Homo sapiens: one gene and its partners. The protein of the gene in region 1 interacts with the protein of each later gene in a pairwise test. Each region holds a gene or a part of one and is shown on either strand. Other genes may lie near its edges. The genes, in order: PELO, BAG3, MYG1 and MAT2A.

Region 1 (7,125 bases):
CATATCTTCAGTGGCAAAATGAACATGAGGATTATGGAGAAAGTAAAGAAAAGTGATTGGCTATAATGGACAGTTTATGCTTATGGGTTGTGGTAGGCAGAATAATGGTCTCCCAAAGATATCCATGACCTAATGCCTGGAACCTGTGAATATGTTATCTTAGATGGTAAAAGGGACTTGGAAGATGTAATTAAATTAAAGATCTTGAGATGAGGAGATTATTCTGGTAGGCACATTGTAATTACAAGGATCCTTAGGAAGGTAGTAGGGTCAGAGTCTGAGAAGGAGATGTGATGATAAAGCAGAGTCATGGGGGAAGATCTGAAGATTCTACCCTGCTCGGTTGAAGATGGAGAAAGGGGCCACAGGCCAAGAATGCAGGTGGTGGCCAGAGGCTGGTGAAAACAGGGAAACTGATTTTCCCCTAGAACCTCCAGAAGAAATGCAGCCCTGGTGACATCTTGATTCTAGCCCAGTGATACTTCTGACCTACAGAACTGTACAATAGTAAATTTATGTTGTTTTAAGCTGGTGATCTATGGCAAGTTGTTACAACAGCAATAAGAAACTGACATAGGAGTAGTAGGAGATAGAGAGAGGGTGTTGGATTAGGGCAGTCAGTTGAGAATTTTGGATTTTATCTTAAAGGCAACAAAGAACCACCAAAGATTTTTGACTAAAAACAGATATAGTAAAAATGATGTATTAGGAGGGTAGACTGGAAGTTGGGTTCAAATTGAAGACAGAAAGATAAGCTCTACAGTAGTGTGCATGGATAAGTATGGTGATGAGTCCCCAGGTTACAAACGGACTCTGAATTGATGAGAAGTTTCCAAATCTGAAAGAGATTGCTAAAGAAGAGCCTACAGAATATAATGACTGATGGGAAAGCAGTCCAATTTCAGATCCCTCATGTGTTGCGAAATGGGCATAAATATAGTGCACACAAGGTTTCTAAATATTTTAAGTCTCTTCCTGGATTCACCAATGTATATTTCACCAACATATATATGAAATTGTAACTTGTTAAACTTCTCTGTTACTTCAAGTTTCACTCTTGTCTTTTTAGAGGATACGCAAACCTCATTTCATCATTTCTACTCTAGAGACTGCTTATTTGGTAGAATGAAAAAGTACAACTTGGATAGTAAACTACTGTATTCAGATTTTGCACAAAAACAACAAAATACAATCTAAAAAAATTTGAGTTGGAGAAGAATCATAGGTCAAATATGTGTAAAAAGTAGTGGCAGTAGCTGGTAAGTTAAACCACTCACCGGCTATAATGCTGTTCAGCAGTTACCACTGTTTGGATTATTGGACATTTCCTGAGTAGTGGGAAATGTTTGGATGAAAAGCCAGTAGCTAATTATTAACTCTCTTTACATTACCTCCCTTCTGAAAAAAGCTCTGCTTGCTGATAATCAACTTCTAAATCATCTTCATAAAACTTAACAATGCTTGGCCATCTAAGGCAGGTCTAAACTAGCTGGCTCTACCCTGTTTTTAGTGGTAAAAATGCTAAATTAACTAGTACTAATAACCATGCCAGCAGTAAAAACACTGAACAATTGAATATCAATGATATGTTAAAGCCAGCTGTTAATTAACCCATTAATAAGGTGATTTTCTTTCACACAGAGATTCTATCGATACACTTTCCCCCCACCTTCTTCCATTTTTCACCATTTCAACTTTCCCCCACCCCAATCAGTAACTGGTAAAAAAGATCTGACCATGAGTTCATTATTGGGAAAATCTTACAAAATGCTATATTTCAAGCTTTTTCTAAATTGGATACAACTTTGCATTTCCACTATGTTTTTAAGTCCCCTCCTTAAAAATACACATTTATGTACAAATAACAATACTATATTTTGCATCTTAAAAGTAGACTGCCCTGTGATATTTACAGAGAAAATGTTCACCATTCCTTTCTACGTTTCAAAATATCCCTCCTCTTGGGTGCTGACATAGAAACATCATTTTGGAACAAGTGGCAGTTTCGTCTTGCATCCCTGCCTTTTCTTGTTCTGCATGGGAAAAAAGCCTAAATAGTAGACAGCAAGAAAATTCAATAATGTCCACTCTGGAACAACCCGAGGGTAGGAATTTTGCATATGTATCAGGCGCCCTATAAGCATCACCCTCCCATCCCATGCCATAAAAAAGGGTGGAGGGGAGGAAATATTCAGCAAAGTCCTAATATACAATGTGTATTGTAAAAACAACTTTAATTTTAAAAGTGAATTCTACCTTCTAAGGTTTTCAGTGCTGCCTCACTCCTACTCCTAGGGTGAAGGACTTTGGAGAGACACGAAAACTAATTCATATCAAAACCAGAACGCGAAACTCCTGCCTGCCCCGTAGCCTGGCCTGAGTACCTGGAATGCCCGAAAGTGGATGGGCGCTCTCTCTTCCTATCTGGCCCATGGCTCTGAGGACCTCCCTCCCCGCTCCAAGCCCCAAGCCCGCGAGCAGGAGATGCTCAGAGAAAAGCGAGTCGCTCACCAGTGAGGAGCCAGCAGCAGGCGACAGCGACCCCTGGGCGGGCGCGGGGCCGAGGGGCCATGGCCGGAGCAGCCTCAGCGCCAGGGGGCCGCGCTGGTTCGCAGGGCAGGACCGGGCGCGGGAGCTGCGCTCTCTGGCTGGGCCACTTATCCCGCTGCCGCGGTTCCCAGTCCTCTGCCCCAGTGGCAGCGGCGCCCAGGAGCGGGAGAGGAGTGATTTCCTGTGTTTTCGTCGAATTCCTCTAAATGCGCTCCACGCTTTTCACATCCCAGACGGATTGCCACATCGCCCGCCCCTTCGCGCTCTTGGTCTCTGAAATCTCACTGGCAGCTTCCCAGGCTCTGTCCGAGACATGGACAAATAAAGCCAGCTTCGCGGGTCCGTGTTTAGGCTAAAGTCCACGGGCTGTAGAAGCAAACCTTAAAGGGACATCTGCCTTTCATTGAGAGGGTGATCTCGTTCTCCGGGCCAAATCCCCTAAGGTGGTAGGAAGGCGGGTAAGGGCTGGACCTTCGGGAGGGTGTTGCCAGCCCAGTGGCTCCGCCTTCACACCCCTTACTTCTCCCGGCCCGGGCAGGGAGGGCGCTTTGACAGTGCCTGGGCGCCCTTAACGGGAGGCAGCTTTCCCGGGTCCATTGCGCAGAGGGATTAGGCCGTCTGTGAAAATGCGAGGATCTGGAATCCCCCCTTCCATCCCCTGCGGACACTTGAAATTCACCGTGAAGTCGTTTTGCACGAAAGGGGGCGTCCCCACCACCCCGACAGGCTCCACTGAGGGCTTTGCTTTCGCTTATGGGGGGGTGGGGGGGTTGCTTCGTTTATGGTAATTCGTGGTTAAAGGGTGGTTGCAGATAAGCTTTTCTTTGAGATAACTAGGATAAGGGGAGAAAAGGAGAAGCAAGACGGAGGAAAAACAGTAAGAGGGAGAGCGAGAAGGGAAGAGAGGAAGAAAAGCAGCCTCCTTGGAAATGGAATGTGTGTGGGCTATTTTGTTTAAGTGAATTAGGATGTTTGTACGCTGGTAATTGAATCTAATAAAGAACTCGGGGCACTACTTTATTTTTTTCTTGCTTGAAACTTTCACGAGTGAAAATGCATTAAGAGTCCAGAAGTGCTTAGGAACTTGCAATGCTTCCCTTTCCTGGTGAGTTGAACAACCTCTCTGAGTCAAAAGCCATATTCACCCTAGCTTCAACCAATGCTGGCTATTTTCAAAATAGCTGTGTCTTAGCGGTTTTGAGAATTTCAAAGACAGAAAGAATAAGTGGATTTGTGTTTAGAGGAATCTGAGGGAAACAGTTCAATTCAATTCTTCAACTCAACAACTAATTGAGCATCTCTAGCAGAACTAGGGCTAGGCAGGACAAGAGTGCCACCCAAAGGAGGGTTCGTTGAGCAGAACGCAACACAGGTAGCACAGAACAGGTAACACGAGGGACAGGAAGGAAGAAGCCCACAGGGTTCACTGGATACATTGCCAGATAGAGGATCACAGCAACTAAAAGCTGGAGAAGACAAAAGTTGAAGAAGTTTAAGGAGCGTCAAAAATGGGGTGGGCAGACCCAAGGAGGTTGAAGGCCATCAGATCTCAGTATGTTGACCCATTAATCAAGAAATTCCTTTTCTATTATGTATCTGAACTGATTCACTATTTAGTAAATACATTAAAAATCTCGTTCTCCCGTTTTTAGTTTTTATAATGTCATTTCTCAGTTCTGTCTTCAAATTTACACAAATGAGTCTCTAGAAAAATTGTATTATGTTGGGTCACAGTTCAATCCCATTGGACTTTACTTAAGTTCCTTTGTTTGTGTTCAATGCTCTCATACCCTGCCAAGGAATTCATTTCCTGTGTATATCTCGTTTCCCTGTTGGTAGTATCAGTTATGTCTTATGCCTCTCAGTATGACTCTCTGTGCTTTGAACAGTAACCAATAGATATTGATTAATTCGTAGACATTTAAAAATCATAGTAAGTACTTTCCCAATGATATTTCTCCAAATTGCTTAGTTTTCAAAAACATATAATAGTGTGTCTATATATACACAATCATGTGTATGTATGTATGTGTACATATATATGTACAGCATATACATACATATGCAAATACATATATGGCATTTTAGCAAATTGCAATATATTTCATTAGAAAAAACAAAAAGAAATTGTAAAATATTGAAATAAAGTAGGGTTAACATATAATATGTTCAAGTTTACAATTACTGGGAAATTTACCTTTCTTCTGGGGGCTAATATATAATTTCAATTTTAATATTTTTATTTCCTCTAGGACTTACAAATTATTGGTGATAACCATCACTAACAGTGATATTGTTACAATTAATTTTCACAAGTTACAAATTTTATGTTTACATGTTTACATATTTATGAATCTTTTATATGTCTAGTCAATACAAATGTAGAGACTGAGAGATAACTATGGTTAGAGAATTAATTTTAGAATCAGTGCTTATTTTCTGAACTTCAATAAACCCAAATACAAATAAATGTCAAGCCGGTTATTTTCTTAACCAATTTTATTCTGACTGACAGAAAGACATGTCATTGAGTAAAGATTTAGAGAAGACAGAAACTTGCCCAGAGTCACAAACTAGTTATTGATATGAGACACTTGATGACAAATGTTTCAGCTCTAGACTTTATACTACATACTTTTCTATTTTAAATGAGACTTGATTTGATCAGATCTCTTTAAGGGTTTGGAAGCATGAGTAGGAGCATGAACCTTATTGTGAACTGCACACGCTTCTTATGAGAATCTAATGCCTGATGATCTGTCACTGTCTCCCATCATCCCCAGATGAAAACGTCTAGTTGCAGGAAAACAGGCTGAGGGCTCCCACTGATTCTACATTATGGTGAGTTTTATAATTACTTCATTATATATTATAACATAATTATAATGGGAATAAAGTGCACAATGAATGTAATGTGTTTGAATCATCTTGAAACCGTTTCCCCTACCCCTGGTCTGTGGAAAAAATGCCTTCTATGAAACCGGTCTCTCTGCCAAAACGGTTGGGGATGGCTGCACTGAAAGATTAGAGACTGAACTGATTAAGAATTTGGAAAGTGGATGTCTATGAAATGAGGCAAGAGTAATTGAGATTATTAACCAATAATCTCAAAAAGAAAAACATATACTTAAAACCAAAGTATTCTTCTTGGAGTTAATCTAATATACTGAGTAAAGTAACTAGAGTAAGTAAGGTTCTGGAGTTACGCTGCTTGGACTCAAGTCCTGGAACCACAATATAGTAGCTGTGTGATTTGGGAAACGTCATCAAGTTTATCTAAGCCTCAGTTTTCTCAAATGTAAAGTGGGAATGAAAATACTGTACTACTTCTGGTCTGAGAATTGCTGTGGGGATTAAATGAACCGAGCCTCTGAGCATTTAGCACAATGCCTGGATTAAAGTAAGTGCTCGGTTAGTATGAATCATTCTTCTCTGTAAATAGAAGAATTGGTATTAAACAGACCATGTAAACAGGGCAGGCTCTGCGTGTGGTAGACCCTGTAGGAAGTGGTGAAATTTGATGGCCATCAGAAGAGGAACTTTAATGTCCGCCTAAAAATATCTCCATCAACTCCTATTATTATTTCTGGAATCCTCGCTTTAAAAATATTTACCTTGGATTAGGGAATTATCTTGAAGATAGTTCTATAAAATGGGTATGCATGAAGACATCAGAACCCATTATAACGTTCACATGAATTTGCTTTTCAAATTGGCTGGCCGTCAGAGGTTTTTTTTTTTTTTTTTTTTTTTTAATTTTTTTACAAGAGAAGAACATTCCGCTAAGAGGTTGGGGGAATAGAAGAGGTTCTAGAACTCCGTGTCTAATGTATGCCAGGGTTCTTTAGCAGTAAGATTATAGGTTCTCAAAGCTACAGGATAAATAAGGTACTCCCACCTGGGTAGTGGGGGTGGTGCTGATTTTACTCAAAAATAAATAATTTAAAAATTGTTGTTTGCTAAAATAACAGATTTTTATAAGAAATATTTTTAAATCATGTTTTCTTTTTAAAAGTCAAATATGAGATTTTAAATACATTTTAAGGTAGCATCAAAGTGTGGTTTTACCCCAACCCCATCCCCTCCACTCTCAGGTGTTAGGGGTAGGTGGAAGTGTACAGAACTGCTTCCGTTTTTACAAAGATTTTATGAAGATTTGGATTTTTAAGTTTTAGTATGTAAGCACTTAGGGGAATATACCCCAAAACAGTGGGGCTAACTCACAAAGCTAACTCATATGGAAAACTTAGTCTAGTTCAATAATTTTTAATTTTCTGGCATATATTGGGCTCCAGGGCTATGTTCTGCAGAGGCAAAAATGGATACAACAGTTGTTATTCCACTGCAAACCTGCTGTTCATTAATTTCTTTCACTTGTAACTAGGAAGAGAAAATAAGTAGTTTTGTGCTCAATTGTAACATTGGCATATTTCATTTTAAGCCTATTAAATTAAACAGTCTAGTGAAATTATCCTAATAGTTGTTGTTGATATACCTTGAGAACCTATGATTGCTTCCTCTCTGACCAAAATAAAGTCACAGTGATATGGAACTTAAACTTCACCATGAGCCAAC
Region 2 (7,042 bases), on another chromosome or scaffold:
CCTCTGTGCTAACCTCTGGCTGCACAGGTTTTCCTGTGACTATAAACTACAGCCATATAGATATATAGATTTTTGTGGGGGACAGGGTCTCACTCTGTTGCCCAGGCTGGAGTGCAGCGGGGCTATCACAGCTCAATGCAGCCTCAACCTTCTGGCCTCAAGTGATCCTCTCACCTTAGCTTCATGATTAGTTGCAACTACAGGCACATACCATCATGCCTGGCTAATTTTTCTATTTTTTTGTAGAGACAGGGTTTCACCATGCTGCCCAGGCTGGTCTTGAATTTCTAAGCTCAAGCAATCTGCCCACCTCGGCCTCCCAAAGTGCTAGGATTATAGGTGTGAGCCACCACGCCTAGTAAGCCATATATTTTTTAATGAGCTATGCTCAAAGCAAAAATATCTTGACGCTTTTTGTTTTTGTTTTTGTTTTTGAGACGGAGCCTCGCTCTGTCACCCAGGCTGGAGTGTGCAGTGGTGTGATCTCAGTTCACTGCAACCTCTGCCTCCCAAGTTCAAGCAATCCTCCCACCCCAGCCTCCCGAGTAGCTGGGATTACAGGCGCCCACCAACATGCCTGGTTAACTTTTTTTTTTGTATTTTTAGTAGAGATGGGGTTTCACCATGTTGGCCAGGCTAGTCTTGAACTCCTGACCTTAAGTGATACCCCCGCCTCGGCCTCCCAAAGTGCTAGGATTACAGGATTACAGGCGTGAGCCACTGCGCTTGGCCTTATCTTGGCTCTTATTCATGTAAGTGAATATCTAACACTTCTTTTAAAATCTCACCCTAATTTCATCAACTGGGAAATAACTGGACTATATTATTTCTAAACTATTCCCAGCTTAAAACACTCAATTCCACTATAACGTTCAGTTTGGTGAAATCCTGGAAAGCCTCCCAAAAGGGAACTTTGAATCAGCTCTAAAAGGGAGGTCACCACAAACACGGTTAATGGTAAGAACAGGATGAAATATCATTTCACTGATGATGAGAAACACATGGGAATGATGTGGAGAAAATATCCCTCTCTCTACAAATGGGACCCTCCTAGGATTGCTGAACCCAAGTATGGATCGATGTAGCTGTCTACACTCCAGCAACCTCCTTTTCCATCAAATCTCTTTCGCCAATGCAGACATTCGCAACTTTGGCCCTTACCACTCACAACCCAACCACGCACCCCTCCTAGGTTCTAACAGCAATGGCTGTGTAAGAAGTGACTTTAGAAACACTTTAGAGAGGGTGTTCCACAGCCTGTGTTCTTCAAAACCGTCAAGGCCGTGAAAGCAAAGAAAGGCTGAGGGAAGACTGAAGAGAAGTTGCATCTAAATGCGGTGCTCATGATCCTTGTTTCAGTCCTGGAAGACATCCTGGAAGTGGGGGCAAACTGCTATAAAAAAGATTCAAAAATGTACTGGATAATAATGTTGTAAGAATGTGAAATTTCCTGAATCTGGTAAGTCTACCATGGTTATGAACGAGAATGTCTTCCTCTTAGGAAAATATTTGCTATTCAGGGGAAAAGGGACATGATGTCTGCAATTAATTTTCAAACAGTTAAAACACATCAATAATATACGAGAGAAGAAATGACAAGGCGAATGCAGACATATTGACAAACAGTGAACTGGATGAAGTATATGTGGGGCTCTGTATGATTCACACAACTCTTCTATGAGATTGAAATTATTTCCAAATAAAACAACATTTTAAGATGAGGGTGCTCTATTCCAGGGCCCTGGCCAGTGTGACCATTTGTAATGAAAGAATATCCCACATTTGTTCACGGGGGGCTTTCCTTTTTAAAAACTGTAGCATTCAGCTGCTCAAGTTGCAGCCACAGGGGGCCCAGGGCTGCTGACTGTCCTGCTGCTAAGCTGTGAGCTGCTTAAACTAAATGACATCCTCTTCCAGGAACCTGCACCTTGTGTCTCCACTGGAAGATAACCAGACCCCTGCCTACAACCTTCCCCAGGCCAGCACGGCTTCCAATCCGCCATAGCTGGCTGATGCCTCAGCCAGACCACATGGTACCTGATTACAAAGGGAGGAGGGGGGTTAAGACATGGGCCCTGTGGTCAGGCTCAGCCCTAAGCTGAAGAGATAAAATGAACACTTCTGAAATGCCCCGAATAATGACATGTTGAACTCATACAAGTTGGGAGTTCTCATTAAGGGACTCATATGAGGCATCATGAGATGAGAAGGATGAGTAGGCTTCATGGAGGAGACAAGACTGGCTCGTCCCTCAGAGGACAGGGAGAACCTATACTGTGCGGGCATTTCAGGGAGCGGGTTCAGCATGGGCAAAGGCACAGGGGTGGGAATGAGCAGAATGGGCCTGCAGAGTGGAGTGGGTAACTGAGTGGAAGGTGACACACTGCCTACACCCAAGGTGAGGCTGTGGCTGCGGTGTGGATGGGGGTGTGAAGAGCCCTGAAAGGGTGTGGTGGACACTAAGGAAGCTGGTCCCAGGTATGTAAGTTCTGCCAAGCTGTTTCGTCTGCTCTAAGTCAGCCGCAATGCACAATGATCAGCCCAGCAAAAGCTGCAGAGTGCGGAGGGTTCACAGCCTGAGCAACTGTCCTGCATTTCTGTTAATACCTAGCAATTTCTCGAATCTCACTTGCCTGTAGGTACACGCATGTTAAATAGGCAGGGATGAAGGGGGAACCCAGGGCACCCACAGAGCTCCTGCACCCCTGGAGACATACCACCATAACCAGTCTGCTGACGACTAACTTCCCGTACCTGAGGCCTGTCGACCACGGTGTGCACACGGATGGGCGAGGGGGAGTGGAGTGGCGTGCTGCTCCTGGCTGGTGAGCCCTCCCGGCTCGATGCACCCTGGACAGATGACCTGAACGGGGATGCCGCCCGCAGGGGCCGGGGCTCCCAGTCATCCCCCTGGATCTTGTGGTACACAGGCTGGTGGGTCTGGTACTCCCCCTGCTGCGCTGGGTAGTGCGTCTTCTGGGCTTGGTGGAAGGAGGGCTGGGCTGCTGGCCGGGTAACGTTCTGCTCGTGTATCACCGGAATGGAGATGTACCCCCGCGGGAGCTGGTGACTGCCCAGGCTGCTCCTGCCGGAGGAAGGCAGGCTGGCCGAGGAGGATGAGGATGAGCAGTCAGAGGCAGCTGGAGACTGGGACCGCTGCAAGAGACACAGGGTAGAGGGCATGACCCCACAAATGACTCCCCTGGCTTGGCATCCTGACCACGCCTTCTGCTGTGCACCTCCTCAGGGCAATCCATATTGTAAGACCTCCTATCTGTAATTTTCAATTTTCAAAATGTGCGGTTAAGACTGAGAGCTCTGGGGCTGGGCGCGGTGGCTCACACCTGTAATCCCAGCACTTTGGGAGGCCTAGGTGAGTGGACCACCTGAGGTCAGGAGTTCAAGAGCAGCCTGGCCAACATGGTGAAACCCCATCTCTACCAAAAATACAAAAATTAGCTGGGTGTGGCGGCGCATGCCTGTAGTGCCAGCTACTCAGGAGGCTGAGGCAGGGGAATTGCTTGAACCTAGGAGGCAGAGGTTGCAGTGATTTGAGATCACACCACTGCACTCCAGTCTGGGCAACAGAGAGAGACTCCACCTCAAACAAAGCAAAACAAAACAAAACAAAACAAAACACACACACACACAACAAAGACTGAAGGCTTTGGAATCAAGGGGCCTATGTTCAAATTCCTAGTAATTCAATCATTTTCTAAGCTTCATTTGAAATATAGGAAGAGTGCCCCTCCCTCACTGGGCTGCTCTGAAGATGAGGTCAGTCACCTGGGCATGTGCCTCAGCCCCAGGCCAGCACACAGGAAGCGCTCATACAAGGGATGTGTTGTCCCCACTACCCTTTCTCTGCCAATCTACAGAGAACTCGGCTGAGCAACTGGGAGCTGCCAGCATCCCGTGTGGCCCAAGGCAGGTCAAGCACCTTTCCCTGCTGGGCCACCTTCTATTCACCTCGAAATTGAGAGCATTTCCTCTTCTAAGTGCTTTGTTAGCCTAAATTTGTGAAGATGTCTCGCATTTATGTGTCACTTTGATTTCTTGCAGCAAAACCATTATAAATATAGGCATTACTTATTTTTTTATTTTTGAGACAGTCTCGCTCTATCACCTAGGCTGGAGTGCAGTGGTGCGATCTCGGCTCACTGCAACCTCTGCCTCCTGGGTTTAAGCAATTCTCCTGCCTCAGCCTCCTGAGTAGCTGGGATTACAGGAATGTGCCACCATGCCCGGCTAATTTTTGTATTTTTTGTAGAGACGGGGTTTCACCGTGTTAGCCAGGCTGGTCTTGAATTCCTGGCCTCAAGTGATCCACCTGCCTCAGCCAGGTACTACCTCTCTAAGAAAAGAAAAAAGGTATCCCACATTAACTGTAACTTTCACTCTCAAGCAGGTGTGAAGCTGAACAGATTCAGACGGAGCTGAGAGGCAAGCATGACTCAGGGTGCAGATAGGACACGGGAGTTTGTGCCCAGGAACAACGCTGGCACACACCACAGGATGATGTGCAGACAGGAAAATGAGAGGACTTACTGCTTAGGAATCCTACTAGGAATGCCTCAAATCTCAGCTAAGAACCAGATTAAGAACTATTTTTTAGCTATTAATGCACAGAATCCATTGACATATCCCTGAGATGTTTGGCTTCAGGATTAAAATGCTGTCTTAAAGCAGCTGCCTTCCTGACTCCTTATTTCTTTTGAAACTGTGGTGCACGGTGAGGGCAGGCATGGGGTCTCATTTTCCTGTCAACATAGCTCCACAAGCGGTTAAGATTTATCCATAAGCATTGAACTGAACAAAATAATGCACAGCTATCTCTGTGCTTCTGAATAGAAAGCCCAGTGTGAATAAGGAGCATGGAAATTAGGCGCCAGAAGGCAGGCCAGGCTTCCGGTCCCAGCTCTGCTCCCTCCACCTGTGTGCATCTGGAGCAGGCAGGCTGCAGTGTGCCCTTCCGAGCCGTTCCTTAGCTACAAAAAGAAGCCACATGATTCCTGCCCTGCCCCACTGAAGAACAGCCCTATGAGATGCTGGGGGATGATGTGGGGCCATCACCCTGTCTTTGCTGGGTGACCTCTGATGCTGCAGGCTAGACCCAGATGCCCTGCATGTGAACAGGTGCCTGGCCCAGGGCACTGTCCTGAGGGGATGGGCCCGGCCTGGGAAGCACAGCGGCTTGCTCCCCAGCAGGCTGGTGAGCCTGGCCTCTCCTTACCTCAGGTCCGTGGGAGGCTGGGGGCTGGGCTGCCGCCGCCGCTGCCACCTGTCCACACTGTTTATCTGGCTGAGTGGTTTCTGGCATGCCCCGCAGAGGTGACTGGGACCTCTGAGGAGCCGCTGCTGCCGCCTCAGTTCGGAATCGCTGCATCCCAGGCTGGGGATAGACATGGAAAGGGTGCACCTGCCGGTTCTCAGCGCCTTCATGGAGCACAGGAATGGGAATGTAGCCTGGTCGGAGCTGGGGGTACACAGGGTGGCCTTCCCTAGCAGGCGGCAGCCTAGAGCCCTCCCGGGAAGGGCCATTGGCAGAGGATGGAGTCTCCTGAAATAAAAAGTGGAGAAACACAGGCTGGTTAGAAACTGGGAAGTGAACCCTCCTGGCAGAGGAAACACTGTGGCGCTTGGCATTGTGATCTTCCCGAGTGACTTGGGCCTCAAAGCGTCAGCCAGCTCCCAGCCCCTGTACCCTCCAAACCCCCCACCCCATAGAGGTTGCTATTTGGCCAACAGTTTAGGAATTAGGGGCATCAGGAGAAAGCCAAAAGTATCTGTTAAGCAAAGGAAAGGTCCCAATTCTCCAAACTGGTAAGACAGGTTTCTTTTCTGGGTGACTGAGGGAAGCGGTGAGTGTAGGAGAGCTGCCCATGCCCGCATTTTCAGAGACCCGGATCAGAAGATGAGCTCCAGGAGCAGGGGTCAGCTCCAACCTCTACATTACAGCAAGCGTCTCTGTTTCCAAAAAGGCCCTCACATTTCCCAGCAATATAGAGCTTGTACTGGGCCCAAACACAGGACACAGTTTGGGAATCTTTACAGAGAAGTGGGCTGGGGAGCGAGGGCTGCCTCCTCAGGAGTATTGTTAGAACAATTTGCAGGAAGGGGAAGGACAGGGATGCAGAGGCAGCATAGGGAGAGAGGGGCACCCAGGGTTAACTGTGTCGCCTAACGATGCCAACTGACAAAGATTCTCTGCTTGACCAAATCTTAGGCTTCCGAAGCATCTCCTAGGCCCATCTGTGCACTTCCTTGTAAAGTCAAGTTTTAGCAAAAGACACTGCTAAGTCAGTTTAGCCAGAAACCCCCTCCCCAGCCTCACTATCTGATCAGCTTCCACAGCCTCCAGGTGCTGTCTAATCACCCTGGCCTGTCTTCGGCAAGAATCCTGTTTGGTCAGCATAGCCAGAAACACCCTTAGCCCTGATGTTTCCTCTTCTAATTTTCCATCCACACTGCTCCTTGACTATAAATTCCCAATCGCCCGTGTTGTATTTGAAGTTGTGCCCAGTCTCTACCCATGACTGCACGACCCCACTGCCGTGGTCCCTGTGCCTATCTTGATGGCCCCGAATAAATCTTCCTGACTGTGCTTTAACAAGTATCACTGAAGAACTTTTTCTTCAACGCAACAGAGCCTGCTTGGGCAAGGAGCAGTTGGGGTCCTTCTCTTATGTCCTCTCTTGAAGTTCTCCCTTCAGTGGCCTGGCTATTTTGGGACCCTTGAGAAGGCCAAGTTCCAGATGTACCACAGGAAAGATCTTATTTCAGACAACAAGGCTGGCCAGTCACTCACTGGGCAATGCCATCTCTCAGCAAGCTGGGCTGCGCAACAGAAGTCCTAACAGTCCCCGAGCACCGAGGGTCCTTTCCCAGGAGGGGAGCTACTGATAAGTGTCATTTGCATATATCTGTGTAAGGCAACTCTTAAGAAGGGGAGTGATCTTTCCTGACGAAGGCAGCTGTCTGCACGGCGAACAAACGCCAAAGGCTAACAATCTATGAGCTTGCAGGGGACAATCTCTACTGC
Region 3 (5,025 bases), on another chromosome or scaffold:
TGGTCCACAGGCCGAATTGCCCACATCCCGCTGTACTTTGTCAATGCCCAGTTTCCACGTTTTAGCCCAGTGCTTGGGCGGGCCCAGGAACCCCCTGCTGGGGGTGGAGGCTCTATTCATGACCTGCCCCTCTTTACTGAGACATCCCCAACCTCTGCCCCTTGGGACCCTCTCCCAGGGCCACCACCTGTTCTGCCCCACTCCCCACATTCCCACCTCTAAGAATAAATAAGTTTTCCTTTTGTTTTCCACTCAGTTACCAGTCTGTCTTTTCCAGGGAGTTGCAGTGGGGTACAGTAGGGGAAAAAAGCATGGACTTTGGGTTAAGGCCCTGTTCTGTCACTTTTTAGCCACTTGTGAATTTGGTCACGTTATTTAATCCTAGAAACTATGGTTTCAAATGATTTGGGAAGCAAGGCTGAGAAGTTACTGTGAAGAAAATATATCTAGCACAGGGTCTTACACATAAATAGTTGTTTCACTTTTCACAAGTTTCTGGAATGGTGTAGGGCAAGAATAAGTCAAGGACTGGGTCAGTATGAGATGGAAGGTTTTATTAGACTAGGAGATTTGTGGGAGGTATGAGCGCTGGGCCAAGGTGGCACGGGCCATGCTCAAGGCACCCTCTCGGGTGTGGTGACCGCCAGTGAAGCCGCTTGCATGGACGAAGATGCAGCCAGGGATCCCACTGACCTGGTCCAGGGCCTCGTCCCGAAGACCCCGCCATGGCTCTGGCAGGGGCAGCCTGGGCAGAAAGAGGGAGTACAGCAGGGGTCAGAGTTGGCAGCCTTCTCTTAACAAGGCTGAGACAAGCCTGAAGGTCTGCAGAGTGGTTCCCTAGGGCCTCACCGGCTTTGGAATGAGTGGGGCTCCTTGGGCACACACTGTATTCGCCACTGTCCAGCCTGGTCAGTGTAGATAACAAAGAAGATGGCCACTGGAGGGGACAGCCCAGATTCCAGGTGGTAGAGATGCTCCTTCCAGGGACATGCACCTTTCGCCAGTTCCACAATCTCTCCACTTGGGTCCACCTGAAAGAGGGAGAGCATAGCTAGAAGGTTTAAGGTAGGCTGGGCATGGTGATCATGTTTGTAGTCACAACATTTTGGGAGGCTGAGGTGGGAGGATCAGTTGAGCCCAGGAATTTGAGACTAGCCTAGGCAACAAAGTAAGACCCTGTCTCTACAAAAAATACAAAAATTAGCTGGGTGAGGTGGTGTGTGCCTGTAGTCCCAGCTACTCAGGAGGCTGAGGTGGGAGGACTGCTTGAGCCTAAGAGGTTGAGGTTGTCTGCCACTGCACTCCAGGGTTTAGGGTAGAAGAAGCAGGAGTTCCTGTTGATTGGCAGTCAGTAATCCTCAAGCCATAATGCCTCCTCCAAGGCCTATACCTGGAATCGCTGGGCAAGGGCCTCTTCCACCAAGGCCCGGGCTGGCAGCCAGCTGTGTTGGTAGAAATCTAATCTCTGCAGAAACTCCTCTTGAACCAGATCCATTGCACGCTTGAACCCTGCCTGGGAATGATGAGAATTAGAACCATGATGCTGGCCCAAACTTGGAATTTGCTAGGGCTTAGGAGGAGCAAATGCTCCCATTTTCCCCCCACCCAAGGTTCTTACAGGTCTCCGGGTCTCCTCCCAGGCCACCTTACCTCAGTGTCTTGGTCGGGGTGGTTCCAGGTAGGATTAAGTCGAGCAACTCGTGCACTCAGGGTAGTGGTCAGTGCATATCGAGGCTCCCCCTCTGCCCACTGGGAGATCCCATTGTCCACAGCATCCACCTCCTCCACAAAGTTCTCATACATCTAAGGCAGCAGCAGGGGAAACCTTCTTGAGGCTACCTGCTACTTATGTGAAATCTTACATGATTCAAAGTATGTTCATACACACTCTTTCAGCCCTGTGAGGATCTCTCAACATTAACTGGATGAGAAAAGGGAGAATTGGCAAGTTCAGCAGCTCGCTGAAGCTCAGACAGCTCGTTGTGCTGTGACTGGAATTCAGATCACCTGATTTCTAATCCATGCTCATTCTGCTGCACAAAGCCCAAACCAAAGCCAACACGTGTAGGGAGGGGACTGCTAACTTTTGAACAAGGAAGGTCTCTAGGTGCTAGAGGCTCTCTGTGGGAGTGGGTCCCTGTGGCTGAAGGCTGGTAAATCTCCAGGTGGGGTGAGTAGGTATTCAGTGACACGGTTAATGAGGTGCAGGAGCGGCTCTGGTTGAGAACACAAGTCAAGTGGGAGAAAATGAGTGTGAGACTAGACACCAAAAGCTGGTTGCTGGGTTAGGGTTCCAGGGAAGCCCATAATGTGCCTCATGACATCAGCAGTTGTCTCCTGGGTCTGAATAAATGGTAGGATAATGCCTCAAGAGTCTCGGGGCAGAAACTTTATGCAAAATTACCCTACAAAATAGGCCTCCATAACAGTACACCTGTGGTATGTAGAAAAGTGCTACTCTCAGAGCACTGAGAAAGTAACTCCTATGCCCAGCTCTTCTTGGTTTGGATCCCAACCTGATGCTCAGTTAAAACATGGGTTTAGGCCGGGCGCGGTGGCTCACGCCTGTAATCCCAGCACTTTGGGAGGCCGAGGCGGGCGGATCACGAGGTCAGGAGATCGAGACCATCCCGGCTAAAACGGTGAAACCCCGTCTCTACTAAAAATACAAAAAATTAGCCGGGCGTAGTGGCGGGCGCCTGTAGTCCCAGCTACTTGGGAGGCTGAGGCAGGACAATGGCGTGAACCTGGGAGGCGCAGCTTGCAGTGAGCCGAGATCCCGCCACTGCACTCCAGCCTGGGCGACAGAGCGAGACTCCGTCTCAAAAAAAAAAAAAAAAAAAAAAAAACATGGGTTTAGGCTGAGGTGGGAGGATCACTTGAGCCCAGGAGTTTTTGAGTCCAGCCTGGGCAGCATAGCAAGACCCTCTCTACAAAAAAATTAAGATATATAATTAGCCAGGCATGGTGGCATGCACCTGTAGTCTCAGCTACTTGGGGGGCTGAGGTGGGAAGACTGCTTGAGCCCAGGAGTTCAAAGCAGCAGCAAGCCATGATGGCACCACTGGACTCCAACCTGGGCAACAGTCTCTCAAAAAAAAATACGGGTTAAATTTAGTCAATTGTTGCTGGGATTAGTGGCTCACGCCTGTAATCCCAGCACTTTGGGAGGCCAAGGTGGGTGCGTTACTTGAGGTCAGGAGTTTGAGACCAGCCTGGCTAACACGGTGAAACCCCGTTTCTACTAAAAATAAAAAATTAGCCAGGCGTGGTGGCAGGCGCCTGTAATCTCACCTACTTGGGAGGCTGAGGCAGGAGAATCGCTTGAACCCAGGAGGCGGAGGTAGCAGTGAGCTGAGATTGTGCCACTGCACTCCAGCCTGGATGACAGAGCAAGACCCCGTCTCAAAAAAACAAAAAAAAACAACAACAAAAATTTAGTCAGTTGTTTAGAAACCCTTCAGCAGTGGAAGGGAAAACTGACCCAGGCAGTCTAAAATCTTGATATTCCAAAAACTCTATAGTTACAGAGGGCAGAAAATGGGCAAGCTAAAACTGAGAACTGATGGGCCGGGTGCAGTGGCTCAGACCTGTAATCCCAGCACTTTGGGAGGCTGAGGTGGGCAGATCACGAGGTCAGGAGATCAAGACCATCCTGGCTAACACGGTGAAACCCCACCTCTACTAAAAATACAAAAAATTAGCCGGGCATGGTGATGGGCGCCTGTAGTCCCAGCTACTCGGGAGGCTGAGGCAGGAGAATGGCGTGAACCCGGGAGGCGGAGCTTGCAGTGAGCCAAGATTGCGCCACTGCACTCCAGCCTGGGCGACAGAGCAAGACTCCATCTCAAAACAAAAAACAACAAAAAAACTGAGAACTGAATTCAACAGCCTACCTGCAAGAAATACAGCTGACTGAACCTGGGCTTTGACTTGTAAACAAGTAAGTGTCCTCAGTACTGTGCGACCTGACTTGCATGCCAGGGCCACTAGCCATATTCTTTCCCTAAGAGCAGGAAGCTGCTTGCAGGGGACACTGGTGGAATCCAAAGACAGTTTCATAATAAAACTCTTCTCAGCTGAGCTTCCCAATTTATGTGCCACTAGTGAACTACAGTGGTGCCTAACATACACTCCCCTCAACCTTCAGGGCAGCCAGAACCTCTGAGCCATCTGCTTCCACACATAAGCAGCCTCCCCTCTGTTTACCCAAAGGTGCTGAGCAATTGCTGTTTGTGTGTGTCAATAAAAAGACGGGGCCATGCTGCTTTATGGTTTTCAAAGCCCTTCCCCATATATTACAGCATCCACTTCTCACAACCACCCCAGGATGTAGACAGGGGAGGTATCACCATTCCCTTGTGAGATGAGCCTGACTGAGGGAGAGGATGAGTGTTGGGCCTGCTATAGGCCAGGAACCCTGACCCGAGGCCCAGTGCTGAGTGCTGTGTGAGCACTGCTCCCAGGCGGCCTGCTGGAAATGCATGTGGGGGGCATCTCTGTCCTCAGGTCCCCACCTTGTCATAGAGGGTGCCCACCATGCTGTCCTCTTCACTAGTGCCCAGCAACTGGGCCAGCAGCTTGTGCCCGAAGTGCAGATAGATGAGTCCCGCACTGCTCAGCTTGGTCTGCCACGGCTTCCCAGGGGACAGGGAGCTCATGGTCTCTGTGAAAGACCTGAGGAGCATAGGGAGGTGGGGCTGAGGTGAGGGACCTTGGCTAGAGTCTCCATGCATTCATTCAATGGTTAACTCAATGCTTCCTATCTGCCACATTTTATGTTTTATTAGACATTAAGGATAAAAAACCAAGACACTGTCCTTGCTTTCAGATTCATCTGCCGGAGGCCGACAAACACAACCCCCTGAGTACTCTCACTAGACGAGACAAGGGAAAGGAAGGAAGGGATGAGGAAAGGGTTCAGAGGAGAGCCTTCAGGTCAGTTCTGAAAGATGAATTAGTGGGTGTCCACCAGATAGACAAGGGGTGAAAGAGAAAAAGCATTCCAAGCAGAGAGAACAACAT
Region 4 (3,656 bases), on another chromosome or scaffold:
CAGATTAATAGGCTTAAATTGCCAGGACTTTAGATAGACATTACCACTTCCAGGTTAATACTTTTAGCGGTTTTTATGCCTTCAATGGTTTGAAGCCCTCAACCTTAGTTGAAAACTTAAAAATGGCATTGAATGGCTGCTGCAATAAGGACACATGAATTTTGGCTTAAGTGGACTAGGAGGACTAAATCTTGCTTAGGCTTTTAAAAAATGCCCACCCACTGGGTCTAGGGATTGAGGTTATTTTCCTGAATTATGGCTAATTATGGATTACAATTCAAGGTTAAAGATACACATATAGTATTCTCAGGTTATTCATATGATAGCATTTTTTAAGAGCCAAAGTCTCAGTCACCCAGGCTGGAGTGCAGTGGCTTGATAATGGTTCGCTACAGCCTCCAACTTCTATGTTAAAGTGATCCTCCTACCTCAGCCTTTCAAAGTGTTGGGATTATAGGCACGTACCTATGGCCCCAAAGCACTTTAACAAATGAGTAACAGACACAGTTAAGGTAGAACCTAGCATTTTATTTAGATCTTCATTAAACTGTTGGAATTGAGAACCAGACATACGTAATAAACCTCCAAAAATAGATCCTGAAAGGCACTTTCTGCTTAGGGCAAGCAGTCATGGAATAAGCATGTAAACAAGCTGGCTTCTCTGTACCACACCAGCCAAGTCAGCTTTCTCCATGGCCAGCCGCACCAGCTCTGCCCTCCCTTCTGTTAACACCAGCCAGACCCCCTGTAGGTCTAACCCAAGGTTTTTCTGTAGGACACCTTGGCCTACCTGGGAATGCTGGAAACATGTTGTTAAAGGAATCATGGTGTTGAGAGAAAAAAAAAAAATCTTTTAAAAGCTGCCATCTGAGGTGATGGCTTCTCTGTACTTACGCCATACCCCAGAATACAATAAATAAGCAATTAGAAAACGTTCAAGTATGAAGGGATTTCCTCCTCCCCGCCAAAAGCACTGCTCTCTGAAGGAAGCTGGTTTCTCTGTAGCTACACCAGCTGTTCAGAAAGCTCATTGGACCTGGTTTTGAAAATAAAACAAAGTTAAAACCCTGGGAGGAGTTATTGTGCAGTGTGGAGTACTCAGGCTTTCTTATAAAGAAAAAAAAAAGTTATCTGGTACCAAAGTGTGCAACCTACAGACCCTCAGGTACTGCCCTGTGACTTCTCTGTATGACATCACAAGGCTGCCAAGTGCCTGTTTTTCTAGAACTAGGAGTTGGTGAGGTTTGGCTAGTGCTGAAACCATGCATAGGATTGGTTTACTAAATTAAAACCTTATTACGTACGTCCTCCAAAAGACAGCTGAAAGTGGAGAGATTTTGATTTGGTGCTGTTAGAGGTGGCAATTAAGAGCATAAGCACCAGGGAGATGGTTTAATGGTAACTGCCTTTTTTGATGTCAGGCTGGAGCTCCAACTGGGAACTTGCGTTACATGCAAGATTGATTGGATAGGGAACACTCCCTGACAAAGAGCTACATAATTAGAAATGGATCAAGTTACAGGGAGGATAAGGGGAAGGCTTCACATTCATAATAGAGCTCAAGACATTACAAATTCATGCTGACAGGGCTGTGGCATTGCCAGACAGAGGCTATAAGTGGAACTACAAGTACTTTACGTGCACATCACAAGGACATTTTCAGCATCTGGTGGGGAAAGTCAATGCAATTATGACTTTGGAGCGTTGGGTGATAGGGCACAAAGGTTCAATTTCAAAGCATTATTTACTACAGTGTTGTTTCTAGGCAGTTACATGGATCACCTATGCTCACTAAATTCATTATAATGGTGAACAAAACACCTAGGGACAGAATAGCAAGCCCAACTTACAGTCCCCCACAAAAGCTAAAATTCATGTCATTGACTAGAGTGACTGCAACTGGTCAGGAGCTGAAAGAGGACAGGAAAATTTAGGAAGGAGGGCCCTTTCCCTCAGAGCTTGAAGGCTTCTCTGTAGCCTACGCCAACAAGTCTGGGGAAAAAAGGCTAACACTTTCAATATTTAAGCTTTTTGGGCACTTCCCATGGGAAGCTGTCCCTACCAAAGTGGCCATAGGCTGCAGTCCTCTGATAAATTGGCTTCTTCAGATCCAGATCCCTGGAATATACAAGTCCGTAACTTAATATGTAGCATTAAATTAAAATAAAGCAAAACAATCAGCAAGACTCATTTTCAAGAGCTCTGGCAAATGAGTTCTCTGGGATATGCTAGGAAAAAAATTTGTGGCAAAAGTGTTACTTCCCTGGTGTCCAAACTCCTTGCACAGTCCTTATTAGTAACTATAGTTGTTTTTCCGTCCCTGGCTCAACAAATACGAAAACTTGTCATTATTCTGAGAAATTTCAATTGTCAAAAAGCTCACCTGAGATCACACAATACTTACCAAGGTCCCGCCGCCCACACCCTACCATGGTTTTTACATTGCAACAAACCTTGAGCAACCCACTTTATCTCTATTTTCTTAACACCCTTAAGTAGAAGAGCACAAAGCTCAAATATCAAATCTGGAACATTCTCTAGAGTGGTTAGCCTAAGCCATGGAGCACCGTAATTTTAAATTTCTCAAATAACTAAGTCTTCACTAAGGCAGCAGTTCAAAACTGTTCCAGGAATTAAAATATATTCCCATTTGAGGAGTCTTCCTTCACACCTTCACCTCCTCAGCCTTAAGTATATACACACACACCCAACACCCTCAATACTTGACTAGCAACAGGCTTTACCATCTTTACCTGACAATGACCCCAGGGCGGAGATCGAAATTCTTCTTCACAATCTCTAATAGCTCTCTCTCACTCTTCTGAGAGGTACCATAATGGAAAATGGAGATAGATAATGGATGAGAAACTCCAATAGCATAAGAGACCTAAAAGGATTCAAATGTCGTAAGAATCAGTGATTGCAAAGACCCATATACTTGTATAATACGTTGGTATAAAACAAGTAGTTAAGTAGATTACTACTAAATACCCTCCCACTTACATGACTTTTAATCGTTCGTTATATAAAGAGTGTATACCTGAACAAGAACCCTCCGGCACAGACCTCCTTTAACAAGGGATTTTGCCACCCAACGAGCAGCATAAGCAGCTGAACGGTCGACCTTGGTATAATCCTTTCCTGAAAAGGCACCTCCTCCATGAGCACCCCAACCGCCATAAGTGTCCACAATGATTTTGCGTCCAGTCAAACCAGCATCACCCTGAAATTACAGGATTTAAGTTACTTTACGCCTAGTGCTTTCCAAGTGGATTAGGTTGCCTATTCTGAATTCATTCAGCAAATATCCTCCGATGATTCACATGTAGGTTTCAGAAAGCCTGAAAAAAATGTAGTAGCCAAAATTTTAAGTAACCATCAAAAATCCAGAAAAATGCAACAAAATGACATTACCTGAGGCCCACCAATAACAAATCTGCCACTTGGCTGTAGGTGGTAGATTGTATCCTCATCAAGGTATTTCGCAGGCACAACTGCTTTGATGACTTTCTCCTTTAGGGCATCCCTCATTTCATCAAGACAAACCTCTTCATCATGCTGAACAGATATAACAATTGTGTGGACTCTGATGGGAAGCACAGCACCTCGATCCTGCATATACTGCACAGTAACCTTGAAGGCAACACAGGTCATCA

Evidence for each region.
Region 2: the proteins of PELO (region 1) and BAG3 interact in binary tests that used the Homo sapiens proteins (3 or more experiments, as listed by UniProt).
Region 3: the proteins of PELO (region 1) and MYG1 interact in binary tests that used the Homo sapiens proteins (3 or more experiments, as listed by UniProt).
Region 4: the proteins of PELO (region 1) and MAT2A interact in binary tests that used the Homo sapiens proteins (3 or more experiments, as listed by UniProt).

Annotation. Positions count from the first base shown.
Region 1 is NC_000005.10:52,783,801-52,790,925, reverse strand, and holds the start of PELO (protein pelota homolog), read right to left. Parts: upstream 3,011-7,125; 5' UTR 2,573-3,010; coding exon of another isoform or gene 2,512-2,572; intron 1-2,511. Other genes in the region: ITGA1 (integrin alpha-1 precursor), read right to left, coding at 2,512-2,572. UniProt on the Homo sapiens protein: Component of the Pelota-HBS1L complex, a complex that recognizes stalled ribosomes and triggers the No-Go Decay (NGD) pathway.
Region 2 is NC_000010.11:119,668,369-119,675,410, reverse strand, and holds part of BAG3 (BAG family molecular chaperone regulator 3), read right to left. Parts: intron 5,561-7,042; coding exon 5,234-5,560; intron 3,157-5,233; coding exon 2,755-3,156; intron 1-2,754. UniProt on the Homo sapiens protein: Co-chaperone and adapter protein that connects different classes of molecular chaperones including heat shock proteins 70 (HSP70s), e.g. HSPA1A/HSP70 or HSPA8/HSC70, and small heat shock proteins (sHSPs), e.g. HSPB8.
Region 3 is NC_000012.12:53,302,686-53,307,710, reverse strand, and holds the end of MYG1 (MYG1 exonuclease precursor), read right to left. Parts: intron 4,678-5,025; coding exon 4,518-4,677; intron 1,804-4,517; coding exon 1,651-1,803; intron 1,514-1,650; coding exon 1,391-1,513; intron 1,032-1,390; coding exon 850-1,031; intron 746-849; coding exon 562-745; 3' UTR 534-561; downstream 1-533. Other genes in the region: AAAS (aladin), read left to right, coding at 1-222. UniProt on the Homo sapiens protein: 3'-5' RNA exonuclease which cleaves in situ on specific transcripts in both nucleus and mitochondrion. Involved in regulating spatially segregated organellar RNA processing, acts as a coordinator of nucleo-mitochondrial crosstalk.
Region 4 is NC_000002.12:85,542,132-85,545,787, reverse strand, and holds the end of MAT2A (S-adenosylmethionine synthase), read right to left. Parts: intron 3,634-3,656; coding exon 3,415-3,633; intron 3,224-3,414; coding exon 3,041-3,223; intron 2,888-3,040; coding exon 2,754-2,887; intron 2,119-2,753; coding exon 2,016-2,118; 3' UTR 507-2,015; downstream 1-506. UniProt on the Homo sapiens protein: Catalyzes the formation of S-adenosylmethionine from methionine and ATP. The reaction comprises two steps that are both catalyzed by the same enzyme: formation of S-adenosylmethionine (AdoMet) and triphosphate, and subsequent hydrolysis of the triphosphate.